Homo sapiens: one gene and its partners. The protein of the gene in region 1 purifies or fractionates together with the protein of each later gene. This does not show direct contact. Each region holds a gene or a part of one and is shown on either strand. Other genes may lie near its edges. The genes, in order: NAT16, RBM12 and METTL2B.

Region 1 (7,108 bases):
AAAATAAACAAATAAGCAACAACAATAATAATAAGAGGTCTCCCCCCTGGCCTGGAAGCCAAGGAAACTTAACTTTTAGCCTGGCTCTGCCCAGACTGAGTCACCTCGGGCAAGGCTCTTAATCTCCTTGATTATGAAATGAATGGGTTGAACCTGATGGTCTCTAATGGCCCCAGCAGAGGATCTAAATCCTCTGAGCCTGGCTTCCTCCTCTCTGATAATTCTGGCTCCATATCCAGGTAATCTCCAGGTGTTGGAATCAGATGAGAAAGAATCAGAAAACAAAGAGGGAGATAGAACTCTTGTCTTGAAGCTTGGTTTGTATAGCAAGCATACCGCGTTTAGGCAAGCTCTGTTTATGGCTTGGAAGTGCAAACCACTCCTTGGTCCCACTGCTGGTCAACCTTCCCCAAACCTAGGTAAGACTTTTGTTAAAAAAAAAAATAAAAATTCCAGTTAAGTCAATAAGTCAATATCACCCCCACAGAATAGCTGGTCTGTGTGCCCTTGGGATGTTGGTTAATGAGGCTTAACGTAGGTTATCTGAGGTGAGCATTATCATTGGCTGAAAGAGAGAGGGGGGATTTGATTGGTTGATTTGGCTGATCTGGAAGAGACAGGCCCAGAAATAGAAGTTGCTGGGACTTGGATAGGGGGCTTTCTCTTTCATTTTGGTGGAGCTCCGACAGAACACTTTTCAAACAATTCCTAGTCCTGGAGTGGACAGAGCCCAAGTCTCCCTATGGGGAAGAGGGGCAGAAGGAAGGAAAGGGGCGGGGGCGGGGGGCATTGATTGGCTTAGAAAGAATGGTTTGACATTTTCTTCTTCTTTTTTTTTTTTTTTCTTGAGACAGAGTCTCACTCTGTTGCCCAGGCTGGAGTGCAGTGGCTCAACCTCGGCTCAGGCTCACTACAACCTCTACCTCCCGGGTTCAAGTGACTTTTGTGCCTCAGCCTCCCTAGTAGCTGGGATTACAGGTGTCCACCACCATGCTTGGCTAATTTTTGTATTTTTGGTAGAGATGGGGTTTCATCACGCTGGCCAGGCTGGTCTCGAACTCCTGACCTCAGGTGATCTACCCGCCTCGGCTGAGCCGCCATGCTAGGCTGGCTTGACATTTTCTAGTGGAGCTATCTATCTTGTTTATATTTGAATGTGTATGTCAAGAGGTGGAGGTGGGGGGACAGGGAACTGGGGCAGCAATATGGAGGATATTTGGGGTCTACACCCTCCCCCTTGGCCCTGGCTGGGATTGTAGCTGGTAGTGGCAGGAAATGGGGTGAGGGTGAGCCCTCCACTGTTCTCTGGGAACTTTCTTGTGGACAGAGGGGTGACAGTGGGAGTTTCTTTCTCATGTTGTCCTTGCAGAGGTCTTAGAGAGGTGATGGGATCCTTGAAGGAGTGTGCCTCTTTTTTTTTTTTTTTGACACAGGTTCTCTCTCTGTCACACAGGCTGGAGTGCGGTGGTGTGATCCCGGCTCACTGCAACCTTTGTCTCCTTGGCTCAAACGATCCTCCCACTTCAGCCTCAGAGCAGCTGGGACTACAGGCCCACTGCACCACCATGCCTGGCTAATTTTTTTTATAGACAGAGTCTCACTATATTGCCCAGGCTGTTCTTAAACTCCATGACTCAACCAGTCCACCTGCCTTGGCCTCCCAAAGTGCTGGGAGTACAGGCATGAGTTTCCGTGTCCAGCCTTCTTCTTCTTTTTTTTTTTTAAAACTACCCCCAAGTGCCTTTTTTCTTTTGCCTGGGTCCCTGGATCTGGGGCTGGTCTATGGGGATCTCACAGGGTTCTAAGTTTCTGACTGTTAGGGAGCATCCCATAAGAGTGGGGTGGGTAGAGCTGAGATTTCTGAAAGCTGGTGGGAAGAGGGAGGGAGCTGGGAGACCTCCACTCCCAGGGTCTGTGTGGACAGCAGAAAAGAAAGGGTGTGGGCCAGGTAGAGTGGCTCACACCTGTAATCCCAGCACTTTGGGAGTCCAAGGTAGGAGGATCTCGAACCCAGGAGTTCGAGACCAGCCTGGGCAAAGTAGTGAGATCCCTATCTGTATTAAAAAAAAAATAAGAAGAAGAAATGAAGAAAGGGGCCAATGTGGTGGCTCACACCTGTAATCCCAGCACTTTGGGAAGCTGAGGTAGGAGGATCGCCTGAAGTCAGGAATTCAAGATCAGCCTGGACAACATGGTGAAGCTCCGTCTCTACTAAAAATACAAAAATTAGCCAGGCATGGTGGCACGTACCTGTAGTCCCAGCAACTCAGGAGGTGAAGGCAGGAGAATAGTTTGAAGCGGGGAGGCAGAGGTTGCAGCGAGCCGAGATCGCGCCACTGCACTCCAGCCTGGGCGGCAGAACGAGACTCCGTCTCAAAAAATAAATAAATAAATAAGTAAATAAGTAAATAAATAAAAGAAAAGAAAAAGAAAGGCTATTTGTGTAGGAAGGGGCATTAGGACCGTTTGTGTGCAGGGGCCCAGATGTGGAAACAAAGGGGCTGATCCAGGTGCTGAATTCTCTTTTTTTCTGCAGGGTCATGAAGCTGGAAGCCAGCTGTGGCACAGCCACCTCAGAGGTCCCTAAGCCGGAAAAGAAGACTGCCCGAGATGCAGAGCCAAGCTCTGAAACCCGGCCACAGGAGGTGGAGGCCGAGCCCAGGTCGGGATCGGGGCCTGAGGCTGAGGCCGAGCCATTGGACTTCGTGGTGGCCACGGAACGGGAGTTTGAGGAAGTGCTGGCCATCTCGGGGGGCATCTACGGCGGCCTGGACTACCTTCCTAGCCGCTACCACAGCTGGCTCCGGGACCCCGACCGCACGGTGGTGCTGGCCAAGCGCAACGGAGGCGTGGTGAGCCCGGGGGCACGGCCCAGGTGACATGGGGTGAAGCCACCTGCGGGTGCGTGGATCTTAGGAAGAGGAGGATGAGAGCTTCTCCCCAGCCTTCCTCTGGAGGCTGCGGAAATAGAGCCTGCTTTGGGACCAAAGTGCAGGGCGTGCAGTGCGGATCCAGGGGCTATGTCAGTGAGGGTGGGGTGGAGGACTCCTAAAGCAGAGGAACCAGAGGGACAGGTGAGCGTTTGAAAGTTCGAGGATCCACCGGAGGAATTTCTGGGGGTAAAAGCAAAGGAGGTGGGGAGCAGGAGAGAGAGGGTAGGCTAGGGGTGGGAGCAGGAAGAGCTTAGATTTGGGCTGGGGGAGGAGCTAAGAGGAAGTGGGGCGTGGCAAACTCCCGGGGGAGGAGCCAAGGAAGGGGCGTGGTGAGCGGTCCGGAACTTGACACACTCGGAGCTGGAGCATCTCAAGAGGTGGAAGGGGCCGGGCGCGTCGGCTAACTCCTGTAACCCCAGCTCTTTGGGAGGCCGAGGCAGGAGGATCACTTGAGGCTAGGAGTTCCAGACCAGCCTGGGCAACATGCGAGACCCCTGTCTCCAAAAAATAAAAATAAATAAAAAGCCGAGAGTAGGGGTGCGTGCCTGTTGTCCCAGCTACTAGGAAGTCTTGGGGGTGTAGGGGATCGCTTGAGCCCAGGAGTTTGAGGCTGCAGTGAGCTGTGATAGCACCACTGCGCTCCAGCCTGGGTGAGGAGACCCTGTCCTAAATTTAAAATAAATAAAAATAAAAAGGTGGACGAAGCCCCGGCGAATGACTGTTCTGCCGGCTCTGTAATCTGAGGCCCAAGTGCCGTGCTACCCCAGGCCTGGCCTGGTGCCCGGGTGGTGACGCGGAGTGCTCAGCGTGTGGGAAGAGGAGAGCCCAGTGAACCGACAGCCCTGGCAGGGGCGCAGGCGGGGAGGGCCCCGCGCTAACGGCCTCGGTCCGCAGATCGCGCTGGAGTCGGTGAACGTGATCGACGCCGGGGAGACGGTGCTGGTGGAGGGGCTGCGCGTGGCGCCCTGGGAGCGCGGGAAGGGCGTGGCCGGGCTGCTGCAGCGCTTCTGCTCGCAGCTGGTCAAGAGACAGCACCCGGGGGTCAAGGTGGCACGGCTCACCCGGGACGACCAGCTGGGCCCCCGGGAGCTGAAGAAATACCGCCTAATCACCAAGCAGGTGAGAAGGACAGGGAGCTCGGATGGCTGGGCCTCTCTGCTGGGGCATATGGGGAGACCCTCCCCACCCCCAGCAGAACACGGGCTTGCTCTCTCTCTGGGCTTTACCGAGTGGCGCGGCCCATGAGCCTTGCCCTGGGACTCCCAGTCCTTACCAGACCCTTTGACCCAGGGGAAGTCAAACTCCCGACTCCCAGCCTGAAACCCTAGTCCTTACTTCCCAACTTCGGGGACCCTGCCTCCCCTAGGATCCTGCCTCTGTTCAGGGCCCCAAGCCATCTCCTCTGAGCCTTTGTCCTCCCTCTGCTCCTCCCAATCCTACTGACTGATCGGCCTCCCTGGCTTTCACGTCCCTGGAGACCCGGGGACCCGTACCCTCAGTTCCCTGGCTACTCCATACTGATCCCACCTCTTCTTGGGGATCCACGTACTGGGAGCCCGTGCCCCTGGTCCCTGTCTGGTACCCTTGAAACCCAGGCTTTCCCATACCCCACTCGGCCCGGAGCCCTCACGGTCGCTCCTCCAGAGGGACCCAGGTGGGAGCCCGTGGGCGTGAACGTGGGAGTGAAGATGCCTGCCGAGAGGCGCCGGGCTCGCCAGCCCTGCTGCGCCCCCCCTCCCCGCGCTCACTCGTGCCCCCCGCAGGGCATCCTTTTGGTCCGATTCAACGCGTCCGCGCTGCTGGCCGGGCTGGGCGCGCGGCTGGCGGCGCTGCGGACCTCTGGCACCTTCTCGCCGCTGCCCACCGAGGCCGTGTCCGAGGCAGGCGGCGACGTGGCACGCCTCCTGCTGTCACCCTCCGTGCAGCGCGACGTGCTTCCAGGCGGGACCATCATCCAGGACTGGCAGCCCTACCGGCCTAGCGAAAGCAACCTGCGCCTGCTGGCGGCCAAGGGCCTGGAGTGGCGCGTGGACAGCCGCGCGCGCCCGCGCGTGCTCACGCTGTGCACGCGCCCCTTCCCCATCCCGCACGGAGGGGACGGCACTTGGCGCTATCTCAACATCGACGCCTTCGGTAGCGACGGCGCGCAGGTGCAGAGCCAGCTGCTGTGGCACCTGCAGCGCCAGGCCCCGCGCCTCGTTGGCCTCAACGTCATGTGCCAGCTCTTCCTGGAGCCCCAGCTGTGGTCACAGCTGGCTGACTTCTGCCAGGTCGGGCTGGGACTGGAGCTGGTGAAGGGTTATACTGAACAGTACCTGCTGGAGGCCGACATCTGAGGCCTCTCCTCTGGCGGGGAGGGGGAAAAAGACCCGCCCCCTTCCGCAGTTTCCCCAGCCAGCCTCTTTCCTGCCATTTCCGACGCTGCGTCTCCTGGGAAGTCCCCTCTGACTCCTGCCCTCCTGCCCTTACCGGCGCAGGTCCCCCCACTCTGTCCCTTTTGCCCTTACTATCTTGCCTCTAGCTCCCCCAAACACCATTGCCCACTCCCTGACCTGAACTTGCGGACTATTAGGTGGGGGCTGGGGGTGGGGGCCTTGAGCTGCTGTTATCCACCCTCTGTTTTTCCAAAGAACTGGTCCCCGCACAGGCTTCAGAGTCCTTCCTTCCCTCTCCATCACCTCACCCGGGGCGTGAACTCCCCCTTTCCTGGCTTCTCCCTTCTGCCCCCTCGTGGGTGGAAGAACTCAGGAGTGTGTGGGATGCCCAGCCTCGTTCCCGAGCGCAGCCGCCCAATCCGCGTTTCTTTTCTTCCTTCTGCCCTTTCTAAAGCCCTAAAAACTGGTCCTGCATTGCCCTCCACACCCCAATCCCCTCCCCCTGCTCAAGCTTCTGGTGCCAGAGATCAGTGCCCTCTCCCCACTTCTCTCTAGCCCCTCATCCTCATCCTCGCTGGATCTCTACGACGCTTAACACCGCAGTGCCCATTTTTCTGTCCCTGTTTTCCTTCCCATCACCAGCCCAGTGTGCAATCCAGAGAGAGAGAGAGTGATACTGTAAAATGAAATGTATTTAGAATGCTCCCCCATTTGGGTCCTTGTTCATCTGGTGATGCACTTTCTGAGCCTGCCTCTCTCACTGGGGTTTCCTCCTGCTTTGCACAACTTTGCTATTTCGCAGGCTCCCCCGTGCCCCAGCTCACCCGAGCCGGGCGGGGTGGTGGTGGTGGTGGTGGTGTGTGTGTGGTGTGGTTCTAGCTGAAGAGTTTGGTACAGTGGAGGGCGGGTCCCTCAGCCTGGCATAGGGGCTGTCTCCTGGTTCCAACCAGGCCGCCTTCTAGTGCAACTGGAATTCCCACCTCCTGGTATTTCTGGACACCACTCCCTTTCTCTGGATCATTTATGCTTTTAGAACTTTGAGAGTCTTCTATTTAATTGCAAGTAGTAACAGCTGCATCTGCACAGCGCTGTCTCCAATACTGGTTCCCCACATCAAAGGCAGAGGGAGAAAACAGAAGGCTGGGAAAGATCAAAGTGACTTCTAAGTCATTCAAAGTAGCTAGGAGCCTCCCAGCGAATAGAACCCGGGTGTCCCAAGCCTAGAGCATGACCTAGAACTTCACTCTGTGGGATGATGTTAGCTTGAACTTCTTGTTGGGCAATGCGTAGGTGCTAGGAGAATGTTGACAGTGAGTTTGGGGTTCGCTGGGATGGGATCCGAGATGTGGGCAGAGGTGGACACCAGCAGGTGGAAGAATGTGGACAAGGTGGGGGGTAGGGGCAGCCGCCGCTTCGCCACTTTCCGCAGCTCTGGTTTTGCTACTGTGCTGCTCTCCTTGGGTGCATCCTGTGCCTGGCCACGCTGCCACCCTCCTTGTCACGGTGACCACGATTGTATGACAATAAAATGGACCTTTTGGCCACCCTCTGTGTCTGTTTCACTTCCCAATGGGGAGAAATGAGACACATTATCTTCCCCTTTCCCCAGCAGCCTGTATCAGAGAGGATCTCTAAGCCCTGTGGCAATGGGGCTAATGACTTCCCGGGGAGAGGGGGGAGGTGGAGAGGGGTTCTGAGGAGGGCTGCTGGCTGTGCGCCCCTACCCCACCCCTGCCAAGCGGAGGAAAGAAGCCGCTGCTCAGGACCGAGGTGGGCAGCAGCACGGCCTCCTGACTCGCC
Region 2 (7,108 bases), on another chromosome or scaffold:
TTCTTTTGGATCTGAAGAACCTAGCTCTGCTGTACCCTGGTTCTTGTTGATTAAAGAGTGATAACTGAACAAAGTTAAAGTTCACTTTTGGATGTTTACTACCAGATGAAGAGTGAAAATAGTCGTTTTAGTTTGTGCCTTGACTTCTTGATGAAGAGATTTGTTGTCAGACATTTTTTTCTGAAATTCCAAGTGATTAGAATGGCTAGTAAATACGAAAGTCTGTCTTGCCATAATATGTTAAATTTTTGTAGCAGATACTTGTGATTTGTGCATGCATCCGGTATTTTGTCAAGTTGAAGCAAGCCTTTATGTTAGGACTAATTCCTGATAATATGAATGGAAAACATACTAAAGCCAGCTTCTTGTTTTAGATCTTCTGAAGTATATCAGTGGCTTTAATGACAAATCAGGCCCATTTTCTCCTTTCCTATCATTATGCTGTATGTATAGATAGAATATGTATTTTAGATGTTTTATTGTTTAGTTATTATTTTAGTCTTATCCTTCTAAAGTTCAGCAAAGCTTTAGGTAAATGGCGTGGATTTTTGAAATCCTGCATTCAGTCGCTAGCTGACATTTAGAATACAGGAATAGTAGTTTCCTGGAAAACAGTGACACTTATGTTAAATTCTTGTGGTTTTTACAAAGTGAGGTGTCAACACAGAAGTATTTCAGTTCTATTTCCATTTACCTTTCCCTTTTGAAGAGGTATAATACCAAGGGTTGTGAAGTTCTGACTTGTAGCATCAACTTTCTGCATGGTTTTCCTTGGTATGGGGTGGGGTGGGTATTCCTCTTTGCTGAAATAGAAGAGAATCATAAATTTCTATCTGGATTGATTTTGTGCTTTAAGTTGTACACATAAAACTTGAACTAGGCATTTGTCAAATTCAGCTGGGCCTTTCAGCCTTGCCTTGTGGAATGAGAAATATCTTCCTTTTAAAGGTAATTTCTGGTAACCTTTTAGAAATTTTTGAGAGTAGACCTGGTGAGTTCCCTTTGAGCTTAACTGGCTGACCCCAGATATGTCCTTCTCAAGATAGACATACGGTATCTTTTGAGTTTGCAAGGGAAGAGGCTGAGAGGAACCTTCTTACCTTATATTCAGGCATATGCCCTGGCCCCATACCTGACCTTTTGAATTGGAATCTCCAGTAGGGATCAGATGTTTATTACAAGTTCTAGAAACTAGAAAGTTACCCTGTTATGTGGCTGCTGGAGTCAAACCTGTACATAAATATTACAGTACTTCATGCTCTTGCTCATTGCTTTACTTGAAGCAGGTTTTTTTCTGTTTCACATTTTCCTTTGTGACCTGTTAAACTACTAGATATGGCTTTCAAATGAAGAATTTTTAAACTCCTTAGACTTAGTTAGGCTAGGCCAGGCGTGGTGGCTCACACCTGTAATCTCAGCACTTTGGGAGGCTGAGGCGGGTGGATCACTTGAGGTGAGGAGTTAAGAGACCAGCCTGGGTAACATAATGAAACCCCTGTCTCTACTAAAAATACAAAAATAAGCTGCGGGTGGTGGCGCAAGCCTGTAGTCAGTCCCAGCTACTCCAGAGGCTGAGGCATGAGAATAGCTTGAACCCAGGGAGGCGGAGGTTGCAATGAGCCTAATGAGCCTAGATCGCGCCACTGCACTCTAGCCTGGGCGACAGAGCGATACCCTGTCTCAAAAAAAGAAAAAAAAAAGAGGCTAGATTTCTACAACATGTAAAAGATTAATACAATGCTCTAGACTTTTGATTGTGTTGATTACATATTTGCATAGCTTTTTGTGGTAAAACCATCTCACTATTCTTTAGCAACTTGAGTAGTTGACTAGACGATGAATAGTTTGTCCTTTAGAAAATCACACAGATTTTTGAAATATGTTTTACTTTTTGGCGATGAATATTAAGGTCATTAGTTGTATTTTGGTCTTGGAAGATACTAATTTAAGATGAGCATCATTTGGAAAAGTAGTCGTAGGTAATCTTAATACTGAACAGTGGCAAATTTCTTCTCTCTCCGAATTAAAACATGACCTTTGAAAAAAAATAAAAAGCAAAAAATGACCTTTGAATATAGTTGTCTAGACATTTGGTCATATATGCTTGTGACTTGTTAATAACCTCACCAGTTTGGAAGAAATGACAGTGAAAGATGAGTGACCTGTTTTTATTTTGGGATATACTCTTAATATGTCAGGCATTTTTAGGGTGTTTTTAAATTTTATTTTATTTTATTTATTTAAATTTTACAAGTTTTTGAGAACTGTTGTGATGTCAGAGGAAAAAACACTTTCCCTTAATATTTTGTTAATATTTTGAGCTCCAGTGGAATTAGTCCTTATAGCAAGAACTCATACTTCATTTGTTTTGTGATGTTGGATGCTATTTTGTGCAAAATAAAATATATTGAAAGAATAATTGCAGTAATTTCCATGAGTACCCTTGAATTGCTATCTTAAGTTGTCCAAGAATTGTTATTGTGCGAACTTGTGCCTTTTCATCACAAATTTGGTGAGAACCTGGGGAAATAGACTTGTGTTACGGAGTTTTCTGGACTGGTTTAATTATAAAGTGATCAAAGCAATTAGCTGTGAAGCTGAGCTTTATGACTGTTTTAATTTTCAGTGGATTCGTTATTGGGCTAAGTTAATGACACTCTTGTAAATATATAATTATTTTGAGATACTCAAATTTGAAAGCAATACCAACTAAAAAGCATGTGTGGGATTTTGTTACGGTGTCTTTCTTTTTTTTTTTTTTTTTGATATGCATTCTAATGAAGTACTCTGGTGGTTTCAGACTCGCCTTCGTAATGTACAGTGTGGCCTGTGCGTGTTGTTTTGTGTTTCCTGCATTGATTTTTGCCTCCGTTTATTCTCTATTGCAGTCTAAAAGTTGGTTTTAATTGGTTGCCCACAGGATTGACTTGGCCTCTACTTCTTGTTAAGGAAATTCATCTCTTGTTTTATCAGGTAAGAGATTTTGAATAGAGAGTTCGTTTTTATACAAAATAAAATGAGATAGCTTATTAAGAAATATGAAAATATATGTAGCAACTATATTGTGTGTGTGTGTGTGTGTGTGTGTGTGTGTGTGTGTTTTTGTTTGCTTGTTTTTTGTTTTGAGACGGAGTCTTGCTCAGTTGCCCAGGCTAGACTCTGTTGCCCAGGCTGGAGTGCAGTGGTGCCATCTCGGCTCACTGCAACCTCCGCCTCCCGGGTTCAAGCACTTCTCTGCCTCAGCCTCCCGAATAGCTGGGATTACAGGCGCCTGCCACCATACCCGGCTAATTTTTTTGTATTTTTAGTAGAGATGGGGTTTTATCCTCTTGGCCAGGCTGGTCTTGAACTCCTGACCTTGTGATCCACCTGCCTTAGCCTCCCAAAGTGCTGGGATTACAGGCATGAGCCGCCACCCAGGCCGGTGTGGTTTTTTACAAGTTTATCTGAGGGATAGGGGTGGGGTAGATGGGTGCTTTGAACAGTTGTTCCTTTGGGGGTCAATTTCATTTATATGGATCTATTTATCTTGTGATTTTCCTGATAGGCAGTAAGTTTTATTCCTTAGTAGCATTTTAGACTAATTACAAATACAGATGCTTGTTATTGATATGTTTATTTATATTTCCTAAGAGTTTAAGTATAGATAATGGGTCACATGTTTTAGAGTACAAATTTTAGACTTTAAATGGAACCTTAGCAAGTGGAATCTAACCCTCTTGTTTAAGTAACTAAGATAGGCCCAAGTTAGGTTGAAATGACTTAGCTGTCAAACAGTTACTTAGTAACAGAAAAGCAGATACTTTTTTAAATTTTTTTTTAAATTTTTATTTGTTTTATTTATTTATTTCTTTTTGAGACAGAGTTTCGCTCTTGTTGCCCAGGCTGGAGTGCAGTGGCGTGATCTCTGCCTCCCGGGTTCAAGTGATTCTTCTGCCTCAGCCTCCCTAGTAGCTGGGATTACAGGCACCTGCCACCATGCCCAGCTAATTTTTTGTGTTTTTAGTAGAGACGGGGTTTCACCTTGTTGGCCAGGCTGGTCTTGAACTCCTGACCTCGGGTGATCCACCCACCTCATCCTCCCAAAGTGCTGGGGTTACAGGTGTGAGCCACCGCACCTGGCTGCGGATATTATTTCATATTTTTTGGAAGCTAGAAACAATTTTTCTCATCAGATGGCTTTATGAATAAATCTTGTATTCCACTTTGGTTTAATATTCAGCCCTTTCCAGCTGGTAATCTGAGGCAGATTTTCAATAGCATATTCTCATGTGTACCTTGTACAAACTTTCAGTAAATCCCTGCTCTTAACAGAAAATGGCTTGAAGACTTAACTGTGTATGTCACTTTAGCCCTGTGTTTAATTTTTGTGTTCTTGGGACTATATCAAGTTTCTGTTTGATTGTCCCAGTGCAAACTAGTCTCTCTCTCTCTCTCAAGTTGTTTTGAGTACCTGGATTGCCCATGATGTTTCCCCTATACAAAGTGATTAACCGTTTTTTGAAGTTGAACAGGAAATGCTATCACATTTTGCATACAGCCACATATTCTAGATTGAGCAAGGAATGTGAATTTGATTTAATGACTTGGAAACTGCTTGATGAACCTCCTTATAGGCTGCTAAATAGTAAATGAGAAAAGAGACTGTTGGTGTGATGTTTTTTAGCGTTAATTTTTCTTGTTGACTCTTGAAGTTTGTAAATGAAAAGCTTCCCCACACTTCCCAAATTTCTAGTGCTTTATAATGGCCTCACAAAAAGCATTTTCTGTTTGCTAGTCCATTTTTCTGGATTAAATTTGAAGGTGGCTTTTTATTTTTGTGTATGTGTCTGTGAGAAAACTGTCAAAGCCAAGCAGTTTGTTTCTTGTTTGTATACGGCAGTTGTAATATTGAGATATAATTACAGATTTTGTTGCATTAGTATTTATATAATATTTGACAATGAAGTTACAGAATTCTTAGAGCTTATAGTAGAAAATCTTGCCCCTTCTAATATTCTTGAGAAGTGATAAAACCAAATCTCTTCATTAATTTATAACCTTTCTGAGGGTCATGAGCTGATTTTATGGGCTTATATTTAAAAGTTGACTTTTCAGGTGGGGCGCAGTGGCTCACGCCTGTAATCCCAGCACTTTGGAAGACTGAGGAGGGTGGATCACCTGAGGTCAGGTGAAATCCCATCTCTCCTAAATACAAACACTTAGCCAGGCATGGTGGCGCATGCCTGTAATCCCAGCTACTTGGGAGGCTGAGGCAGGAGAATTACTTGAACCTGGGAGGTGGAGGTTGCCGTGAACCGAGATCGTGCCGTTGCACTGCAGCCTGGGCTACAAGAGTGAAACTCTGTCTCAAAATAAATAAATAAATAAAAGTTGACTTTTCAGATGGGTTGGAAAACACCCTATGTTATTGACCACCTTAATTTCAAAGTAGTATGTTTCCCAGGCCCAATAATTCGGTTTGTGTCACTTTCCAAAGGGCTGCCCTTGAATTTGCTCTTAGAAGCCTTTGGAACTGAAATACTGAAATTTGAGGGGAACATTTCTTTTTTGATTATGTCAAAACAGGCATGATCTAAGGAGATCACAGAGATCCTGTAGGAGTTGTGTAGGTCCAAGACTGTAACAACCACTGAGTAATTCACACTCTGGTTCTAAAACAAAAACAAAAAATATTTTTATTGTCAGCCCTCTCCTAGGGGAAAATAATACTTTAAAAAATTTTATTAAATAGAGGATTTGGTTATGAGTCATTGGACCTGAGTTTTAATTAAAATAGTCACAGTGAATGGGACTATAACCAGGTTCTACTTTTGGGGGTAATGAATCAAGGTAACTCAGATTTTAGCTGTCCTATTCAGTAGTTCTTTTGGCTTCTTAGTATGTCTTAACCTTGTTTATAATAAATAATTCCATATGTAGTTTTTTGTAATGTACAAGGCAGATTGAAAAGTTTTAGGATGAATAAAATAATGGAACCAGTTCTCATTTAAGACTTGAATCTACTTTTAGTCTTAAGTATTATTTACAATTCATTAGTATTCTAGTTTTTTGCTTCTGTTGGATGGATTTTGAGACTGAGCTCTATAAAATCACACTCTTGATAATTCTATGAAATTATCAAGTATATAGGGAAGATGCTAAGCCAGTTTTAAATACTAACTTCTATATATTCTTTGCATGTTTTTTCCCTATAGATTGTTAAACTTTGTTTCCTGATTTGACTTAGACATTTCTTTTAAATCTTACTGAATGATTAGTGGTCTGAATGATGTATATGTATTTTACTGTCCTACAGTTGTTTTTTCTTGAACTTTTTGAGTCTTGGGACTGAACTGTTTCCAAAATTAATGCCTTCTGGAAGTTGAAATTGTCTACGTTTTACATTGTAAATGGCACGTAATGTTCAGTTTTTAGAATATCTAAATTAAAGACATTGCCTGTGATAGCTTGAGGGAATATTTGAGGGCCTAATATGGTAGCTGGTCATTCTTGTAGCTAAAAACTTGGTGTGATAAACAGGAGTCTGACCTGGCCGTTGCCTTTTCTCATCTGCAGGTGTGTGTGGTTTCAGCGCAGCATGGCTGTGGTCATCCGTTTGCAAGGTCTCCCAATTGTGGCGGGGACCATGGACATTCGCCACTTCTTCTCTGGATTGACCATTCCTGATGGGGGCGTGCATATTGTAGGGGGTGAACTGGGTGAGGCTTTCATCGTTTTTGCCACTGATGAAGATGCAAGGCTTGGTATGATGCGCACAGGTGGTACAATTAAAGGGTCAAAAGTAACACTATTGTTGAGTAGTAAGACGGAAATGCAGAATATGATTGAACTGAGTCGTAGGCGTTTTGAAACTGCCAACTTAGATATACCACCAGCAAATGCCAGTAGATCAGGACCACCACCTAGCTCAGGAATGAGTAGCAGGGTAAACTTGCCCACAACAGTATCCAACTTTAATAATCCATCACCCAGTGTAGTTACTGCCACCACTTCTGTTCATGAAAGCAACAAAAACATACAGACATTTTCCACAGCCAGCGTAGGAACAGCTCCTCCAAATATGGGGGCTTCCTTTGGGAGCCCAACGTTTAGCTCAACTGTTCCA
Region 3 (6,941 bases), about 27 Mb from region 1:
CATGATCATGTTGAGCTCTTTCACCTGTATGATACAGTGTCATGTGACAGGTACAGCATGATGCTATTAATACAATTTTTGGAAGTGACATGCTATTCCCGTGTGATCTTTGTCTGTGATGACCACCAGATATCTGGTCTGCACTGAGGGCATTTTATCAGTTCAAAAATGGAGGTGATTCCAGGCTAATATAAGGGTCAAGTCTAGTCAGCATCATCCAATAGAAGTTACTTTTATTGTCAGCCTCTCTATGCTACCTCATGTGCACAAATATAATAGCTTCACATATCCCACTACCAAGACAATAAAAGGTTACCTCCAGTATTCGGTAGGTGGCTGAGGATCCAGGAAACTCATCAGCACAAATTTCCAGGTCACTAATTTTCTGAGTTACATTCTCCTCCACAGGAGGTGTCTGTGTTTTATGTTCAAGGCTCTTCGAAGAACACTTGTGCTGTTCTTCCATTATTAAACCAGGTCCATCCTCATTGTTTCTACATTCACATACTTCACTCTTGTTCTCCAAGAACCAATCCTTCAAATGATTTTGATTTTGGCTAGGTGCCAGCTCAGGGAATTCGGTAAAAAGCCAATGTCTATCCTTGAAAAACCCATTTTCGTGGATTTTGTAGAAGTCATTCCAGTATTTGTGGGCATTGATCTCATAATCAACTGTAAATATTTAAGAAAAAATTTTAAGAACCAGCTCTCAAATATTTTATTTATATCTAACGTCAATTATCCTGCTTTACCAAATGTCACTTTAATACTAAAATTATCCTCAGGTAGAGCCACAGTCCCAGAACTGAAGGCATTTCTGAGGTCATTTAGTCCTGCCATCTGGCATTATACCCAAATGCCCCATCCGTCATTATAGGAGTCTAAATTCTGTTTGAACAATCAACCAGAGAACTTACTATCTATCAAGTGTCCTCCTACATCTTTGGATGACTTTTTTTTCTTTTTGAGACAGAGTCTCGCTCTGTCACCCAGGCTGGAGTGCAGGGGCGCAATCTTGGCTCACCACAAGCTCCACCTCCCGGGTTCATGCCATTCTCCTGCCTCATCCTACTGAGTAGCTGGGACTACAGGCCCACGACCACGCCCGGCTAATTTTTTCTATTTTTTAGTACAGACGGGGTTTCACCGTGTTAGCCAGGCATGGTCTCAATCTCCTGACCTCGTGATCCACCCGCCTCAGCCTCTCAAAGTGCTGGGATTACAGGCATGAGTCATCGCGCCCAGCCAGATGACTTTTAACTATTAAAAAATCCTAGAAGTAGCCAGGTGCAGTGGCGCATGCCTGTAATCCCAGCACTTTGGGAGGCTAAGATGGGCGGATCACGAGGTCAGGAGATTGAGACCATCCTGGCCAGCATGGTGAAACCCCATCTGTACCAAAATACAAAAAATTAGCCAGGCATGGTGGTGCACACCTGTAGTCCCAGCTACTCGGGAGGCTGAGGCAGGGGAATCGCTTCAACCAGGGAGGAGGAGATTGCAGTGAGCTGAGATCGCGCCACTGCACTCCAGCCTGGTGACAGAGCGAGACTCCGCCTCCAAAAAAAAAAAAAAAAGTATGGACAGTTTAAATGAAGGCTGTTTTTAAGGTGATCATGACAGTCCCAGATTTCAGTTTACTGCTCTTGCCAGTTCAGGGGGCCTTGACTAGTGTAGTAGAAAGAATAAAAACCTAACAAATTGAGCAGGACGGTGACAATGGAAGTTGGAATCCACTAAGAAGTGTGTTAACAACTCACAACTCACCTGCTGAATCAACCAAGACTCCCTAAGAAACAGGATTTTAGTTCCACTACTGCTACTACTGACTGCTTACCTCTGGGAAAAGCACTTAATGTCCTGTGGTCCAAGTGTCTTTAACTATAAAAAGAGAATATTGAACCACATGATTTTCAAAATCCCTTTTAACTATTAACTTGCTTTGATCTAGTTGCTGTCAGACTATGCAGGGTGAATGTTTTGTAACTGGAACCTTTTTGTTGTACAGAACTCTTTCAGCAGGTACTAAATTTGTAGTGCTATCTTCAATTGTCTGGAACAATCAGTCCTAGTTTTACTATCTAGGGATATTTTGCAGTGAAATCATCAACCTCTCAAGCAGGGGCCTCCTTTTCTTTGGCCAGACTTATCTCCACTCTGCTGCATCCACCTTTCCTTGACTGAAGCCCTAAATTCTCATAACCATCACACAAGTAATAGACACACAGTCACCAGTCATTAGCCCCCCTCCCAACAATATTTAGAATCTAATCACTTAAATGAAGCTTCAATGGAAACATCTCCTCATGGAAAATGCAAATCATGTAAAAAGTACAGGTTCTAAGATGATCGCGTGACCACACAGTTGTCATTGGCTAGCCATATCAACGTGGATCTACTCAACATAATTAAAGACAAAATTACCCTCCTCCAAAGTAAAACTATATATTAAAAAAACCCTCTACGACTTAAGATTTTGTTACAATGCAGCCCTTTTCCCTCCTTGCTCATCCCCTCCCTGTCCTGCTCTACTCCTGAGATCCGCATCAGGCCAGGAATAAAGGATGTGGGCGGCCGCGGTTCCCTGGCCTCTCCGGGAGGGCGCGTTCGGCAGTACGCTGGCTGTTGATACCAACGAGAGCCCATTTAAGCGCACCTTGTTTCTCCTGGCACACCCGCTGGATACTGTTCTCCTGGACTTTTCTCTCCGCCGCCGCGGCTTGCTCTTCCGACCACTCCACATTGTCCCTGAGAAAATCAAACGGGCAGCTTAGGGGCTTCACGTCCTGGCTGCGAGCAGGGTGAGTCGCTGGCCTAGGAGTTTCTCTCCCCTTGGAGAGTGCCTCGGGTAGGGCAGCTTGACTCGTGGCCGGCGGTCAGGGGCTTTTCGGAATGCTCCGAGGCGGCGGGACAGACGGCCAGCGACAGGCCGGGCGAGGGGGCAGGGTGATTACCAGGCATTGTGGTGGAAGACGCGCGCCGGATCGCTCAGGAACCGGCTTCCGAACTGCTGCCTCTTATCGGCGAGGATTGCAGGTGCACCTTCAGGGTAGGAGCCGGCCATGACACCGGAGCCGGAAACACTTCACTTTCCGTAACGCGAGAACTTCCTGCGGGCCACGCCCTCTTTCAGAAGACGTGGAGTCTGGGCGGGAAAAAGGGTGGCGGGACAGGGCGGTCCTGGAGTCTGGTCCGGGTGGCGCTCGGGAGCTGTCGTTTGGGGCTTTCCCAGGGTTGGCGAAGGGCTCTCTAGGGAAGGGGACCAGGCAGGGGGAAATTCTCCCCGGAGGAGTCGTATCTCATTGATGAGGTGCTGATGGACGTGCAGGTTAGGCAGAAAGTGGGAGACATTCCACTTGAGGCCCAGTTCATTGCTGGGATCCTCTTAACAGGTTCCCCAGCTTCCCTCAAGTTGTAAAACAGGAATAATCTTGAATCATTATAAGAGTTGAGGCTACCTAGTTCCACTGCGGAGCCGATGTCCAGAACTGAAGAAGGTAGCAAGCAGCGGAAAGAAACAGGGCAATTTCCAGCTTCTATAGTCAGCTCTTCATAGTGTGGGTGTATATGTATACACAGTGTGTATATATATTTTGGTTGGGGTGGGGGAGATGGATATATGAAATTAGAGAACACGAGGCTTAGCAAATCAAATGGAATATCCAAGGACAATTTTTTTTTAATTATAACCATCTAACCTTTTTGAATCATCCATATTATATTTATTATAATTATCCTTATTAGCACAATTAAGATTGTAATACACACATACAGTTTGTCATAGTAATACATTTCAGCCTTACATTTCTATTTCTAGATCTAATACAAATAGACTCTCAAAAGAATCTAGAAGAAAGTATGTTATAGACATAAGGTTATTTGAGAAGACTTCCAAGAGAAGCATGATGAATACCACTTGGAAAAGAAGGAAAGGGCAGAGACCAAACAAGGACCAGCCCAATATCTCTTGGACTTTATTTAATGTCATAATGTCAGAATAAAGGGAAAGATGAATTTTTTTAAAAAAGGAAAGGGTTAGTGCAGTGCTAGACATAGCACATTGGTAATTAGTACTTTTTTTTTTTTTTTTTTGAGACGGAGTCTTGCTCTGTTTCCCAGGCTGGAGTGCAGTAGCTGGATCTCAGCTCGTTATAACCTCCATGTCCTGGGCTCAGGTGATTCTCCTGCCTCAGCCTCCTGAGTAGCCGGGATTACAGGTGCGCGCTACCACACTCGGCTAATTTTTGTATTTTTAGTAGAGATGGGGTTTCACCATGTTGCCTGGGCTGGTCCTGAACTCCTGACCTCAAATGATCTGCCCACCTCGGTCTCCCAAAGTGTTGGGATTACAGGTGTGAGCCACCGTGCCCAGCCAGTAATTGTTTATTCCATTGTAAATTCTTTCTGTAGGTAAAACTACAGGGAGCAATGAATGATTCTATACTTTTCCTCCAAAGAAATGGGAACAAGCTCTAAGCCTCTCTAATCAGGAAGAAAAATACACAAGTTAATCAAAAAGATAGTAAAGAAGTTGTACTTCATTTGAAGACAATATGCTTTTGCCATTCTTGTGGTCTTTGGAAACATTTTGAACACAAGCTCCATACCCAGAAACAAGTACAAGGAATTTTTATCTTTTCTCAAGGCCAGCTGTTTGCAGATATGGTGGTTGATTTACATTTATTTCTGGCATCTTGTTTTCTCATCTGTGGGCTTTTATTCTCCCCTCACTAAAAGCTGTTAGTGTTCCCAATCAACAGTCCCACTGGATATTTTCTTGCAGACAGCTCATTGTCTTCACTTGAATTTACTATATTAGTTCCAATGGAGACATTTTAAATGTCAAACAGCTTTGGCCTTTTTTCTATGAAATGTGCTAAAGTATCCTAAACTTAATTTTATTTTTTATTTTTATTTATTTATTTATTTATTTATTTTTGAGACGGAGTCTCGCACTGTCTCCCAGGCTGGAGTGTAGTGGCGTGATCTCGGCTCACTGCAAGCTCCCTACTTCCCGGGTTCACGCCATTCTCCTGCCTCAGCCTCCCGAGTAGCTGGGACTACAGGCACCCGCCACCATGCCCGGCTAATTTTTTGTATTTTTAGTAGAGATGGGTTTTCACCATGTTGGCCAGGATGGTCTCAATCTCCTGACCTCATGATCCGCCCACCTTGGCCTCCCAAAGTGCTGGGATTACAGGAGTGAGCCACCGCGCCCGGCCTAAACTTAATTTTATACAATTATATTTGATTGGCCTGTAAAACCTATTTTTCGAAGCACCTAAAATAATTTTGCATAAGTTTGACATGGCTGTGAGTTCTCTGGTGTCAGACTTTATACTGGATTGTAGCTTCAGAAACGCCACGTTTCAGAGGAACTAAGGGTCCCTCTGGTGGTAAGTAAGGAGAACTCTTATAGCTCAGTGGGTGGCATGGGTTTAATGCTTGTAAAGGTTAAAAACTCTCATTCTGGATTATTGCCTTAGGTTGTTAGCCAAGGACAAGGGTAGTTAATTGTTTTTTTTGTTTTTTTTTTGTTTTTTGGTTTTTGTTTTTTGAGACGAAGTCTTGCTCTGTCGCCCAGGCTGGAGTGCAGTGGCATGATCTCGGTTCACTGCAAGCTCCACCTCCCGGGCTCAAGCCAGTCTCCTGCTTCAGCCTCCAGAGTAGCTGAGATTACAGGCCACCGCCACCACACCCGACTAATTTTTGTATTTTAGTAGAGACGGGTTTCACAATGTTGGCCAGGCTGGTCTTGAACTCCTGACCTCAAATGATCCGCCTGCCTCAGCCTCCCAAAGTGCTGGGATTACAGGCATTAGCCACCCCACCCGGCCTTTCTTCTCCTTTTTTTCTTTGAGATAGGGCATCACTCTGTCACGCAGGCTGGAGTACAGTGGCACGATCACAGCTCACTGCAACCTCTGCCTCCCAGGCTCAAGTGATTCTCCCACATCAGCCAACAGAGAAGCTGGGACTAGAGGTTTGTGCCACCATACCCGGATAATTTTTGCATTTTTTGTGGAGACAGTGTTTTGCCATGTTGCCCAGGCTGGCCTCGAACTCCTGGTCTTGAGCAATCCTTCTGCCTCGGCCTCCCCAAGTGCTGGGATTACAGACATGAGCCACTGCACCTGGCCTGTGTTTTCTTATTGCAAAATAAATTTTTTATTATAGAACGTTTAGAAGATATCGATAAAACAAAAGAAAATACTTCTTCCCACCATTAATTTGACTCATTAATGCTTTGGCTTATATCATCCTAGTGCTTTCTAATTTAGTTATGTAAGTGACTTTACATTAAAATAGTTTCAGAACAAAATGCTTTGTGCTTTTTTTTTTAAACAATTACATTCATCTGGCCGGGCACGGTGGCTCACACCTGTAATCCCAGCACTTTGGGAGACCAAGGCGGGTGGATCACGAGGTCAGGAGTTCGAGACCAGCCAGACCAAGATGGTGAAACCCCCATCTCTACTAAAAATACAAAAATTAGGCTGGGTGTGGTGGCTCACGCCTGTAATCCCAGCACTTTGGGAGGCCGAGGTGGGCGGATCACGAGGTCAGGAGATCGAGACCATCCTGGCCAACATGGTGAAACCCCATCTCTACTAAAATACAAAAAATTAGCCAGGCGTGGTGGCACGCGCCTGTAGTCCCAGCTACTTAGGAGGCTGAGGCAGGAGAATCACTTGAACCTGGGTGTTGGAGGTTGTAGTGAGCCGAGACTGTGTCACTGCACTTCAGCTTGGGCGACAGAGCGAGACTCCTCACACACACACACACAAATAATAAATAAATAAATGATAAATAAATAAAATTAGCCGGGCACGGTGGTGGGTGCCTGTAATCCCAGCTACTCGGGAGGCTGAGGCAGGAGAATCGCTTGAACTCAGGAGTCGGAGGTTGCAGTGGGCTTAGATCGTGCCACTGCAGGCCAG

Evidence for each region.
Region 2: the proteins of NAT16 (region 1) and RBM12 purify together in Homo sapiens (affinity purification with mass spectrometry; 2 studies listed by BioGRID and IntAct, with this or other methods). This does not show direct contact.
Region 3: the proteins of NAT16 (region 1) and METTL2B purify together in Homo sapiens (affinity purification with mass spectrometry; 2 studies listed by BioGRID and IntAct, with this or other methods). This does not show direct contact.

The regions. Positions count from the first base shown.
Region 1 is NC_000007.14:101,170,240-101,177,347, reverse strand, and holds the end of NAT16 (probable N-acetyltransferase 16), read left to right. Parts: intron 1-2,536; 5' UTR 2,537-2,540; coding exon 2,541-2,852; intron 2,853-3,827; coding exon 3,828-4,052; intron 4,053-4,696; coding exon 4,697-5,269; 3' UTR 5,270-6,852; downstream 6,853-7,108. UniProt on the Homo sapiens protein: Probable N-acetyltransferase. Shows only trace activity toward L-His and no N-acetyltransferase activity toward other amino acids. The physiological substrate of this enzyme is unknown.
Region 2 is NC_000020.11:35,654,795-35,661,902, reverse strand, and holds part of RBM12 (RNA-binding protein 12), read left to right. Parts: intron 1-2,888; 5' UTR 2,889-2,973; intron 2,974-6,558; 5' UTR 6,559-6,580; coding exon 6,581-7,108.
Region 3 is NC_000007.14:128,472,889-128,479,829, reverse strand, and holds the start of METTL2B (tRNA N(3)-cytidine methyltransferase METTL2B), read right to left. Parts: upstream 3,083-6,941; 5' UTR 3,065-3,082; coding exon 2,955-3,064; intron 2,749-2,954; coding exon 2,657-2,748; intron 673-2,656; coding exon 317-672; intron 1-316. UniProt on the Homo sapiens protein: S-adenosyl-L-methionine-dependent methyltransferase that mediates N(3)-methylcytidine modification of residue 32 of the tRNA anticodon loop of tRNA(Thr)(UGU) and tRNA(Arg)(CCU).